Regions from separate parts of the Homo sapiens genome. Here regions 1 and 2 are each linked to region 3. Evidence: fine-mapped expression QTL. A gene starts in region 3. Each other region holds a variant in brackets. All regions are shown on one strand. Distances are from middle to middle.

Region 1 (4,128 bases), 70 kb before region 3:
AGGAGTGGAAAGGCCACGGCCAGCTCCTGGCCGAACCTGCCATGCACCATGAGACGCTCAACCTTGGGTGAATATTCTAGAACAATCAAAATGCTTTCAAAATGACTCTGGAATGTTTATTTTCTTTTGTAGTAATGAACCCAGGCTTTAGCAACAATTAACATCCAGCTCCTAGGAGCCAGATGCTTAGGAAAGGCTGCTGTTTTCACAGGGTTTCCACGTGGAGAGCTTACGCACACTGATTCCTATCTGTGCCTTCCTGGGCTGTGATAAGAAATGGTTCATTACATAGGTGGATGGTTTTGATTTTTGTAGCCTTTTGCTTTTTACAATTCCAAACTGCAGAGTAGTGAGAGTGAATCAGGTGACTTGGCTTAGACTATAAACAAAGAGAATGCCTCTCTTTTTCCATGGATAATAGCGAGCATGTTTGCGGCTCCAGGACGGGCTCTGGGGGCCTGAGACCAAGCACCTTGCTGGGCCAGTGAGCGGGCTGGGCACCTGTGCCTGCAGCTATGGGCGCCAGTTCCCTGGAGGAAGGTGGAACAGCATTCTTTTGTTTACTTGGCTTTTTGTTCCCTAACTGGGTGTGAGGCTAATTCCCTCTCCAGGTACATCAGACCAGGGAAAAACAAAAACAAACAAAAAAGACTTCCTCAGAAATTCAAAGACATGGCCAAGAACAGAGAGTCTCTACTGCAGACTCTGGGCAGGCTTGGCACCTGCCGGGGCTCCTCAGTCGAGCCCCGGTTTACTAGGCGTGGCCTTAACCTGCAGGGAAGTGCTCTGAGCCGCAGATCTTATCACCACCTTGGTTGTTTCCCAGGGAGGAGCCAGCAGGTTATTTCTCCTCATCACACTAGCTGTGGTAGCGACAGTGGTCTGCAAGGCTTGCTTTGGTTCCAATTAAAATGGGGAAAGTCCTTGGCCTTTGCAGGAAGGGACCTGGGTGTGGCTCTGTGGGGATGAACAGACACCTGCCCCACCTCCACCTTGTCCCTCTGCTGCTCAAGGGGGTATTTTGTTTGCACACGGAGGCTCCTGGGTAGACAGCACGCTCCTAAGAAACTGACTTCTGGTCCCGGGCAGCATCTCATTTTGGGATCTCAAATTGGAGCGAAACGTTATTCTACTCTCCAGACTGGGTTCCCTGTCCTCTTGGCTACCTGGATGGTGTCTTGGGGTCCTGAGCCTTTGAGACCCCTGGACAGATGTGGGCTAACTGGACAGCCTAATGCTGGTCAGTTGGGCAGGTGGGTTAGTGAAAGCCCTGGAGAGCAGAGGAGCTGGCAGGCAGGAGGGAATGGCTGGGAAACACTGTTGACAGAAAACAGCACCGTGGGATCGTCGTGTGCATGACACGGTCGGCCGGGTTCTCTGGGTGATAATTTCCTTCTGCAAAGGCAAGACCTCGCTGTGGTTGGGTCATTAAAGGCCAGGCGGCAGTTATTTTTTCAGGATTCCAGGTGACATCCTAGGGGCTGTGAGAGCTGCAGCTCCCTGAGGAGCCCCTTCTTCTCCCTGCCCCAGTGAGCAGCATGTCCCTCTTCCGACTGTAAATTACACGAGCATATTTCCCCATGCAGCGATCTGTGCAGTATGCCATTGATTCATTGTA[T/AT]GATAGACATAATCAGCCTTTACATCCTAACCTAAGACCCACATGAGGTGCGCGCCCTTTGCCCTTCTCTCTTCATCAGCCTACTGGGGCTTATGAGTTGCAGGGACTCCAAGTCAACTTTCACATTTACATTCTGCCCTAAATCTGTGTTCCTCTGTCCTCCATCCTCAGGATATGTCCATGCTGGCTAGAGAGGCAGGATGACACGTGGACGCCAGCACGGATGTGTGTGGCGTCGGGCAGTGAGCTGCTCTGGCCCCGACCTCTTCTCTGTGAAAAGGCACAACAGTATTCAATACATATAAACTATGTTCTTAAGTCACTTGTCTTCAGAGGCCTTCTTCATTGAGGAAGACAACAGGGGTTCTGGTTGGGGAGCCAGGCCTTACAGTAGTTCTTGAAGGAGCTGCACAGCAGGTCATGGGTACTGTGAGTGTGCACTTCGTCTAATTATTAACAGTGCCTCCGTTCACTCTCAACGGTGCCCCAGTTAGGACGGTAGACTATCTCATCACCACTATGCGTGAGGAGCCTGGGAACATGGTCAGAACCATTTTACTCATACAAGTTTGCAGAGGCCTTTAAAGCAAGCCTCTTGGCCCTCTGTTATTGAATGCTGGCCTCTGCTAGGTGCTGCAGGTAGCAAAAGATAAAAGATGTCGTGCTGTTCCGTGTGGACAGGAGCTGGCTATTTAAAGTGGAATGGAGGACTCAAGTACATCTTCATGGGCAGGGAAGAGATCAAAGGCTGTGGACGACGAATACAGAATTATCCTCTGGTCCACCACGTAGCATGCATGCAGAGATAAGCCACTGTGACCAGTCACATCAAGATTCATAGACTTATGCCTAATTTAGAGAACTGACTTGCCAGGTTTGTAATACTAACTTAATAGTGGGTTTTCTGCTGCTGGTAGTGGTGGTTTGGCGGCTGGAGAGCACTGCCTTCCAGTGAAGCTTTGAAAGAGCCGTCCCATGCCCTGCCAACTGTCCAAGACAACTGACAGCAGATCCGACACCTCCATGTAGACACAGATCCAAAACTCACTTTAAAATACTAATCACAGAAGGGGCCGAAAGCAGTCACCATAGTGGCCCAGGAGAGCAGGATCAGTGGTGCCCTGTCGGACATGGGAGAGCCGGTGGCGGCGCTGTGCCGCCTACGCCAGCAGCAGATTCAGCTGCCATCACCAGGTTAATGACCGAAAGCCCGCCCCCGGGGCTCAGCTCGGAGCGCGGCCGGAGGACAGCGGTCCCCTCCTGGCAAGGGCACGGAGCCCCGCAGTGGGCAGCGGCCAGAGGACCCGGGTCCCAGTAAGCGCAGCGCCCGCCGTGGGAGCCACAGCAGCTTGGGGCTGGCTCCCTCCCCAGGCGGAGACTGGGGTGTGCCCCACCGACCCGACCCAGGCTCCCGGGCCCCACTCACCGGCTTGCTGGGCGGCGGCCGGCGCAGTCGCCGCCGGGCGGGCAGCTCGGGCTGGCGGAGGCGGCGGGGCTCACGGCGCGCACGCCGCCCGGGCCCTGTGTACACACGTGACCGTCGGCCCCGCCCCCGGCCGGCGAGCGGCAGCCATGCCTGGCCCCGCCCCCAGCCTTGGTCCCGCCCTGGCCTCCGCCCCCCGGCCCCGCCCTCGCGGCTAGACCGCGGGGAACCGCTCGGACCAGTGAGGTTGGGGGGCGGTGGCGGTGGAGGCAGTGCTGGTTGTGTAACCTGAGACCAGCCATTTGACGAACTCGTGCGAGATTCCCTGTGGGAGGACACACACCCAGGGCTCTGGGAGTTTTTGAGAATTCTCTTAGTGCCCAGCGCGGTTTCTTTTTACAGGCGCTGGTGCCTATTTTGCTGAGTCAGAATATACCCTAATCTGCAGGGTGCAGGCCCCACCGCCCTCCAAAGGAAATGAGTGGCTGCAAGTTAGTCCTTCCAGGTACACCTGCCCCTCTTTCTTCACCGAAGTTTGCTTGCTGTTTCCAAAGTCACCAATTACTTCCTGGTTTTAGGATTTTCTTTGTAAACGGAACACTCACAGGAAAGCCGTTTAAAGAAACACATTGCTGCCTGATTACTTTTGTAGCTATTGTTACAAGTTAAACATTGGAAAAGTTGAAACAAGGACATTTACTTTGCTGTAATTTTTGAGGTGAAACAGTCCCCCCTGCAGCACATTCTGGTTCAGGATCTAAGAACATTTCTGAAAATCAAAGCATGTGGGTTGCACAGTTCCGCATAGACTTGCTGTGAGCTGCGGGCCGAGTGGAACACCAGCAGGAAGAATAGCGGCCACTGGCCCTCCGCTGCATGATGCTGTGGCCTACTGTGTTCAGGGATGTACCTCAGCCACCTTCCTGGACAGGACGGCTTCCTGACCGTGGGTCGGAGTGGGACGTCGGGATCAGCTTTCTATTCCAGCGGGAGGGCAGGGAGAGGCTCACCACGGCCCACGCCTGCTGATGTGATACTGACTTGCTGCCCAGCCCGGCACCAGGTCCCTGGCACAGTGGATGCAGCC
Region 2 (4,128 bases), 31 kb after region 3:
TGAGCGTGAGGGGGTGGGGGCCTGGGGCCTGGGCAGAGAGGAGGTGTGGGCTGCCAGCCCACCCAGGAGCTCCAGAGGTCACTGCCTCGCTGGCGGGGATCCACCGGCCGGCGGGAGCCTGGATCCCTGCAGGGGCCACGGGTAACTGGGAGACAATATGCGGAAAACACGGAGGTGGAGTTGGAGAGGGGCCTGGGTCCCGGCGTGGAGTGGGGCGCTGTGTGCCTGGGGGACAGCCATGCATGCCCCGCCTCACGTAGCTGTGAAGGGTGGTGGGCACCGGAGCCCCTCCCACAAGGGCACCCTCCCACCTCGGCTGCCCCTTGCGTGCCTGGCCAGAGCCAGCGTCCGACCCGGCCTCGATTGCACCGGGATCTCTGCTGTGCGTCAGCCTTGGGAGGGCAAAGGTCTCTGGAACCAGGGCCCCATGGACAGGCTTGGCTACTGCCCTTCCCCCTGCCCGTGCCCCAGCCTGGGCCTTGGCTTGGGGGACACGCCTGCCCCACCTGGCTCCGCCCAAGAATGTGGCTCACCTGCCCAGGTGCCCCAGACCAGCTCCGGAAATGGTGAGCGGCTGAGTCACCTCGGGCGTCCTGGGAGCAGGTAGGGCAGAGCGGGGCTGGGAGGAGGGAGGGAAAGAGGCTGGCGGCTGTGGGCAGTCTCCGAGGAGGAGGCAGCTCCTGGAGACGGTGCTGGCAGCCTGGATGTTTGTGGGGGCTGGAGTCTTGGGCCTGCCCCTCCCTACCTGGCACTCAGGGCCTCCATCTCCACCACCACATCAGCCATGCCGCAGCCACCCTTGGGCCCAGTGTGTACCTGCTGGCCTTGTGGCCTGTTCTGGGGGCACCACAGGCCGTGGGTGCTGACTCCAGGCATTTTGGAACAAAATTCCACAGTCCTGGGAACCCAGAAGTGGTCCTGGGCAGAAGCAGGGCCGGCCCCACGGTTCAGTGCCCCGAGTGGAGGGGGCAGCTGGAGTGCAGCCCAGGCTTAGGGAGAGGCTCTCCTGCGTGGGCCTGTGGGGGCCCTGCTGCTGGGGCGTCAGACCAGCTCCCCTTCCACCCTGGAGGGTCTCTGAGAGTGCGTGCCCCGCCCCTTTTCGCTCCGATGGGCTGCGGGCATTTGCGGATGCAGGCAGGCCTGGCCATGCCCAGCAGCCTGAGAAGGAGGCCTGCCCAGCCCAGCCTCAGTCACTTGGAAAACAGAAGGGTCAGCCCGTCCCTTCTGCCTTGGGGACCAGCCAGGCTTTTTCCTTACTGGAAGCTGGGGGACTCTAGCTCCCCATCTCCTTGCACACACACACACCTGCACACACACACGTGAGCCCACCCTGCAGAGCTTCAGCATACTCAAATCAGAAGGCCACCTTCTATTTCAGTGCCTTCAAGGGCTTCCGAGGTCACTCTCCCAGAGACCAGAGGCCTTAAGACATCGCCCAGAGTCACCCAGAGTCACCCCCCCGGGCTCTTCCCTCCCAGGGTCTGAATCTTTCTTTAAAACAGAGTCTCAGGGTGGGTAGAGTGGGGATGGTTAATGGGTACAAAGAATAGAATAAGATCTAGTATTTGATATCACAACAGGGTGACGATTGTCAACAATAATTTATTGTACTTTTAAAAATGACTAAAAGAGTGTAATTGGATTGTTTGTAACACAAAGAAATGATACACGCTTGAGGTGATGGGTGCCGTGTTTGCCGTGATGTGATTATTTCACATTGCATGCCTGTAGCAAAATGTCTTGTGGACCCCATAAATATATACACCTCTTATGTACCCACAAAAATTAAAGATTAAAAATTGTTAAAAATAGGCCGGGCTCGGTGGCTCAGGCCTATAATCCCAGAACTCTGGGAGGCCGAGGTGGGCGGATCACCTGAGGTCAGGAGTTTGAGACCAGCCTGGCCAACATGGTGAACCCCGTCTCTATTAAAAATACAAAAATTAGCCAGGCATGGTGGCGGGCGCCTGTAATCCCAGCTACTTGGGAGGCTGAGACAGGAGAATTGCTTGAACCCGAGAGGCAAAGGTTGCAGTGAGCCAAGATTGCACCACTGCACTCCAGCCTGGGTGATAGAGTGAGACTCTGTCTCAAAAAAAAAAAAAAAAAGGTTAAAAATATAAAGAAAAATAAATAAAACAGGGACTTGGTTAGGCGAAGTGGCTCATGCCTGTAATCCCAGCACTTTGGGAGGCTGAGGTGGAAGGACTGCTTGAGCCCAG[A/G]AGTTAGAGACCAGCCTGGGCAATATAGCAATACCTTGTTTCTACAAAAAGTTTTTTAAAGTAGCTGGGTATGGTGGTGCGCACCTGTAGTCCCAGCTACTCAGGAGGCTGAGGCGGGAGGATCACTTGAATCCAGGAGGTCGAGGCTGCAGTGAGCCATGATTGCCTCACTGCACTCAAGCCTGGGCAACAGAGCAAGACCCTGTCTCAATAATAATAATAATAGTAATAATTCTGATGAGGTCAATTTCTCTCTTTCTCCTCTTCTCTCTCTTCCTCCTCCTCTCTCCCTTCCTCCTCCTCCCTTCCTCCTCCTCTCTCCCTTCGTCCTCCTCTCTCCCTTCCTCCTCCTCCCTTCCTCCTCCTCTCTCCCTTCGTCCTCCTCTCTCCCTTCCTCCTCTCTCCCTTCCTCCTCTCTCCCTTCCTCCTCTCTCCCTTCCTCCTCGCTCCCTTCCTCCTCCTCTCTTCCTCCTCCTCATTCCCTTCCTCCTCACTCCCTTCCTCCTCCTCTCTCCCTTCCTCCTCCTCTCTCCCTTCCTCCTCCTCTCTCCCTTCCTCATCCTCTCTCCCTTCCTCCTCTCTCCCTTCCTCCTCCTCCCTTCCTCCTCCTCTCTCCCTTCGTCCTCCTCTCTCCCTTCCTCCTCTCTCCCTTCCTCCTCTCTCCCTTCCTCCTCTCTCCCTTCCTCCTCGCTCCCTTCCTCCTCCTCTCTTCCTCCTCCTCATTCCCTTCCTCCTCACTCCCTTCCTCCTCCTCTCTCCCTTCCTCATCCTCTCTCCCTTCCTCCTCTTCCTCCTCCTCCCTTCCTCCTCCTCTCTCCCTTCCTCCTCCTCTCTCCCTTCGTCCTCCTCTCTCCCTTCCTCCTCCTCTCTCCCTTCCTCCTCCTCTCCCTTCCTCCTCCTCTCTCCCTTCCTCCTCCTCTCTCTTCCTCCTCCTCACTCCCTTCCTCCTCCTCTCTCCCTTCCTCATCCTCTCTCCCTTCCTCCTCCTCTCTTCCTCCTACTCTCTCTTCCTCCTCCTCACTCCCTTCCTCCTCCTCTCTCCCTTCCTCATCCTCTCTCCCTTCCTCCTCTTCCTCCTCCTCCCTTCCTCCTCGTCTCTCCCTTCCTCCTCCTCCCTTCCTCCTCCTCTCTCCCTTCCTCCTCCTCTCTTCCTCCTACTCTCTCTTCCTCCTCCTCACTCCCTTCCTCCTCCTCTCTCTTCCTCCTCCTCACTCCCTTCCTCCTCCTCTCTCCCTTCCTCATCCTCTCTCCCTTCCTCCTCTTCCTCCTCCTCCCTTCCTCCTCCTCTCTCCCTTCGTCCTCCTCTCTCCCTTCCTCCTCCTCCCTTCCTCCTCCTCTCTCCCTTCCTCATCCTCTCTCCCTTCCTCCTCTTCCTCCTCCTCCCTTCCTCCTCCTCTCTCCCTTCCTCCTCCTCTCTCCCTTCGTCCTCCTCTCTCCCTTCCTCCTCCTCCCTTCCTCCTCCTCTCTCCCTTCCTCATCCTCTCTCCCTTCCTCCTCTTCCTCCTCCTCCCTTCCTCCTCCTCTCTCCCTTCCTCCTCCTCTCTCCCTTCCTCCTCCTCTCTCCCTTCCTCCTCCTCTCTTCCTCCTACTCTCTCTTCCTCCTCCTCACTCCCTTCCTCCTCCTCTCTCCCTTCCTCATCCTCTCTCCCTTCCTCCTCTTCCTCCTCCTCCCTTCCTCCTCCTCTCTCCCTTCCTCCTCCTCTCTCCCTTCCTCCTCCTCTCTCCCTTCCTCCTCCTCTCTCCCTTCCTCCTCCTCTCTCCCTTCCTCCTCCTCCTCTCTCTTCCTCTTCCTCTCTCCCTTCCTCCTCCTCTCTCCCTTCCTCCTCCTCTCTTCCTCCTCCTCCTCTCTCTTCCTCCTCCTCTCTCTCTCAGTGGATTCTGCCTTTGGTGTTGTATCTGAAAAAAA
Region 3 (4,107 bases):
CAGGCCCCGGGGTGGGGGCTGTTGGGCCGCCTTGACCAAGCCCTTGTCTGCAAACAACCCCTGGGAAGTTGCAGGAACTGGCTCCTAAGCAACAGTGGGTTCAGGTGTCACCAGGGTCCAGAGCGGGGGGCCAGGCAGCGAACTCGGTGTTGCTGGGGACCCACTGTGCTTACCACGAAGGCCTGGCCAGTGATTGTGAAATGGGTGGGATGGATGAGTGAGTGGAGGCTGGAGCTTGGGCCGCCCATGGTGCTCTAAACGGGCCAGTGTTCGACTTCCTCATGGCCAGGGCATGTGGGTACAGGTTCAGGGCTGGGAGAGACTCCGCGGGTGGACGCTGGGGTCTTCACTGAGCCCTTTCCCACGACTGCTGTTGCCATGACAACATCGACACGCAAAGGCCGGGCCTTACCGCTTACAGTACACTTTCATTCTGCCCTAGGTTGAGCTGTAACTACCCTCCACCCCCATTCGTATGGTGAAGCCACTAGGACCTTAGGATGTGACCTTTGCTTTGGAAATAGGTGCCAGGTGCGGCGGCTCACGCCTGTCATCCCAGCCCTTTGGGAGGCTGAAGTGGGCGGATCACTTAAGGTCAGGAGTTCGAGACCAGCCTGGGCAACATGGTGAAACCCCGTCTCTACGAAAAGTACAAAAAATTAGCCGGGTGTGGTGGCGCATGCCTGTAATCCCAGCTACTCTGGAGGCTGAGGCAGGAGAATCTCTTGAACTCGGGAAGTGGAGGTTGCGGTGAGCCGAGATCGTACCACTGCACGCCCGTCTAGGTTACAAAGTGAGACTCTGTGTTGAAAAAAAATATATTAGCTTAGCTGGGTGTGTTGGTGGCGCCTGTAATCCCAGCTACTCGGGAGGCTGAGGCAGGAGAATTGCTTTAACCTGGGAGGTGGAGGTTGCAATGAGCCAGGATCGAGCCACTGTACTCCAGCCTGGGCAACAAGAGAGAGACTCCGTTTTAAAAAACAAAACAAAGAAATAGGGTTGCTGCTGATATAATTAGTTAAGATGAAGTTATTGGGACGGCCCCTAACCCAACATGACTGCTATCCTTATAAAAAGAGGAAATTTAGGTTGGGCATGGTGGCTCATGCCTATAATCCCGGCATTTAGGGAGGCTGAGGCAGGAGGATTGCCTGAGCCCAGGAGTTAAGGACCAGCCTGGGCAACATAGGGAGACTCCATCTCTACGAAAAATAGAAAAATTAGCCTGGTGTGGTGGTGTGTGCCTGTGGTCGCAGCTACTCAGGAGGCTGGGGTGAGAGGATCGCTGAGCCCAGGAGGTCGAGGCTGCAGTGAGTCGTGATCATGCCACTGCACTCTAGTCTGGGCAACAGAGCAATACCCTGTCTCAAATAAATAAATAAAAATAGTAAATTTGGACATGCGCAGGACACCATGGGAACGTAGGGGCCGAGACCAGGTGGTGCTTCTGCAAGCCAAGGAACCTCACAGGCTGGCGGCCCCCAGAAGCTGGGAGGCTGGGACTGTCCCCAGGGCCCCCACTCTGCCCACTGCTTGGACTCCAGACCCCAGGACTGAGAGCACATTCCTGTTGTTGAAGCTGCTCGGTGGTGTCACCTGGCTCCAGCAGCCGCAGGCAGCGAGTCCACAGGCTCTCCTGTCCCTCCTGTGCCGCCTTCCTCCCCGGATGGGCCCCGTGATGAGGTCTCTGTGCGATGGGGAAACCGAGGCCCCAGCAGACACCTGGGATGCAGAGACGCCGGCACCGCTATGTGTCCTCGGGCAATTCGCTGAACCTTTCTGGGCCTCGGTTTCTCACCAATTCCAAAAGCTGATTCTGCTACCGACTGCTGTGAGGGTCCCAGGGGACGGGAAAGCCCGGGCAGCGCCCACCGGGGCTCAGGAGCTTGCTGACTCCGAGGGGGTGGGGCCGGGCCTGGGCAAGGGGTGGGGCCGGGCCTGGGCAAGGGGCGGGGACGGGGCCTGCTCGACGTGCTCGGCGCTCCCGGGGTGCCTGCTCGGCGCTCCGCCGGCCGCCCTGCGTACGCTCGCAAGGCGCTCGCAGACTCCGGAGTCGCCAACATGTCGACCGCCATGAATTTCGGGACCAAGAGCTTCCAGCCGCGGCCCCCGGACAAGGGCAGCTTCCCGCTGGATCACTTAGGTGAGCGGCGGAAGGTCGGCGGGCAGGGGTCTGCGATGGGGGGTCTGGGTCGCGGCCCAGCGCGGAGCCCTATGGGGTGCCGGCATCTAGCGCGGTGCAGGCGGGGAAACTGAGGCACGGCGGCCCGCCCCTCCGCCCCACCCAGCCCTGGGTCACTGCTGCGGCATGGACCCTGCAGGTGGGAGCTGGCAGGACCGTGGCCCCCGTGACGAGGGCAGCGACACCGACTCCTTGCGTCAGGCTTCCGGGTCTCCGGCTCCGCCCTGACTCACCCGGCGGGCTGTCTGTGCCCCGGGTTTGCAGAGCGGGGCATTCGGCGGCCACGAAGCCCGCAGCTGCAGCCGAGGCTTAGACGGTGCCTAGCGATGTCTGCTGCAAAGCTCAAAAGTGCTGCTGATCTCCCAGTGCTTCTGGCCGTATTCCGGTGGGGTTGCCTCCGTGGACATGAAGGCTTCGAAAAAGGATCTGTGGGCCGGGCGCGGTGGCTCATGCCTGTGATCCCAGCCCTTTGGGAGGCCGAGGTGGGCGGATCATTTAAGATCAGGAGTTCGAGACCAGCCTGCCCAACATGGGGAAACCCCGTCTCTACTAAAAATACAAAAATTAGTTGGGTGTGATGTGGCTCGCCTGTAGTCCCAGCTACTCGGGAGGCTGAGGCAGGAGAATCGCTTGAACCGGGAGACGGAGGTTGCAGTGAGCCGAGATCGGGCCACTGCACTGCAGCTTGGGCGACAGAGTGAGACAACGTCTCAAAAAAAAAAAGAAAGAAAAGAAAAGAAAAACGATCTGTGAATTACTGTTTCTTTCCCAACATTTTATTGTGACATTTTCAAATAGCAAAAATGAAAGAATTTTTACCCTGAACTCTCCTGTGACCATCACCTACATTGCACCTTAACCTCGTACTGGGCTGACTTTACCTCGTTGTGGGTTTTTTCCATTGTTGTTTTCAGCATGTTTATGAAGGAAACAAGTTTGGGTTTGATTGTTTTTGTTTTGAGACACGGTCTCACTCTGTTGCTTAGGCTGGAGTGCAGTGGTGCAATCATAGCTCACTGAAGCCTCGGCCTCCTTCCTTTCTGGACTCAGGGGAGTCTCCCGTCTCATCCTCTAGAGTAGCTGGGACTATAGGTGTGCAGCGCCACACCCAGCTAATTTTTTTTTTTTTTTTTTTTTTAGAGATGGGGTTTCCCCATGTTGCCCAGGCTGGATTATTTATTTATTTATTTTTGAAATGGACTCTCACTGTGTCGCCCAGGCTGGAGTGCAGTGGTGTGATCTCGACTCACTGCAACCTCCTCCTCCCGGGTTCAAGCGATTCTCCTGTCTCAGCCTCTAGAGTAGCTGGGACTATAGGTGTGCAACACCACACCCAGCTAATTATTATTGTTTTTTTATTTTTTATTTTAAAGATGGAGTTTCCCCATGTTGACCAGGCTGGATCATTTATTTATTTATTTTTGAAATGGAGTCTCACTCTGTCACCCAGGCTGGAGTGCAGTGGTGTGATCTCGACTCGCTGCAACCTCCGCTTCCTGGGTTCAAGCAATTCTCCTGCCTCAGCCTCCCGAGTAGCTGGGACTACAGACACCCGCCACCATGCCCGGCTAATTTTTGTATTTTTAATAGAGATGGGGTTTCACCAAGTTGGCCGAGCTGGTCTTGAACTCCTGACCTCAGGTGATCCGCCCACCTCTGCCTCCCAAAGTGCTAGGATTACAGGCGTGAGCCACCGTGCCCAGCCTGGATTATTTTTAGGAGACAAGGTCTTGATCTGTTGCCCAGGCTGGAGTGCAGTGGTGTGATCAAGCTCACTGCAGCCTCGAAATCCTTTGCTCAAGCGATCTTCCTGCCTCAGCCTCCTGAGTAGCTGGAACCACAGACGTGCGCCACACCTAGCTAACTTTTAAGGTTTTTTTTGGTAGAGATGGGGGTCTCACTGTGTTGCCCAGGCTGGTCTCAAA

Evidence for each region. PIP is the estimated chance that this variant, and not a neighbour inherited with it, causes the effect.
Region 1: its variant is fine-mapped to the expression of COX19 in whole blood (INTERVAL, PIP 0.99).
Region 2: its variant is fine-mapped to the expression of COX19 in whole blood (TOPMed, PIP above 0.99).

Annotation. Positions count from the first base shown.
Region 1 is chr7:1,043,575-1,047,702 of GRCh38, reverse strand. The region is part of intron 2 of CHLSN (cholesin); the gene reads left to right. GPR146 (G protein-coupled receptor 146) reads right to left here and starts at 3,157. Exons shown (of 2, transcript NM_001303473.2): 1 at 3,045-3,157. RefSeq lists silencers at 2,658-2,707, 2,888-3,377 and an enhancer at 3,483-4,038. The variant T/AT (reference allele first, on the strand shown) is at 1,619.
Region 2 is chr7:942,237-946,364 of GRCh38, reverse strand. The region is part of intron 1 of ADAP1 (ArfGAP with dual PH domains 1); the gene reads left to right. Among named protein-coding and RNA genes, the nearest start is that of ADAP1, 10 kb to the left of the region's middle. RefSeq lists enhancers at 418-712, 1-1,140, 550-1,464. The variant A/G (reference allele first, on the strand shown) is at 2,223.
Region 3 is chr7:973,464-977,570 of GRCh38, reverse strand. COX19 (cytochrome c oxidase assembly factor COX19) reads left to right here and starts at 2,022. Exons shown (of 3, transcript NM_001031617.3): 1 at 2,022-2,143. The coding sequence starts at 2,062. RefSeq lists enhancers at 1,036-1,916, 2,548-2,617, 1,917-2,799 and silencers at 1,848-2,127, 2,148-2,307.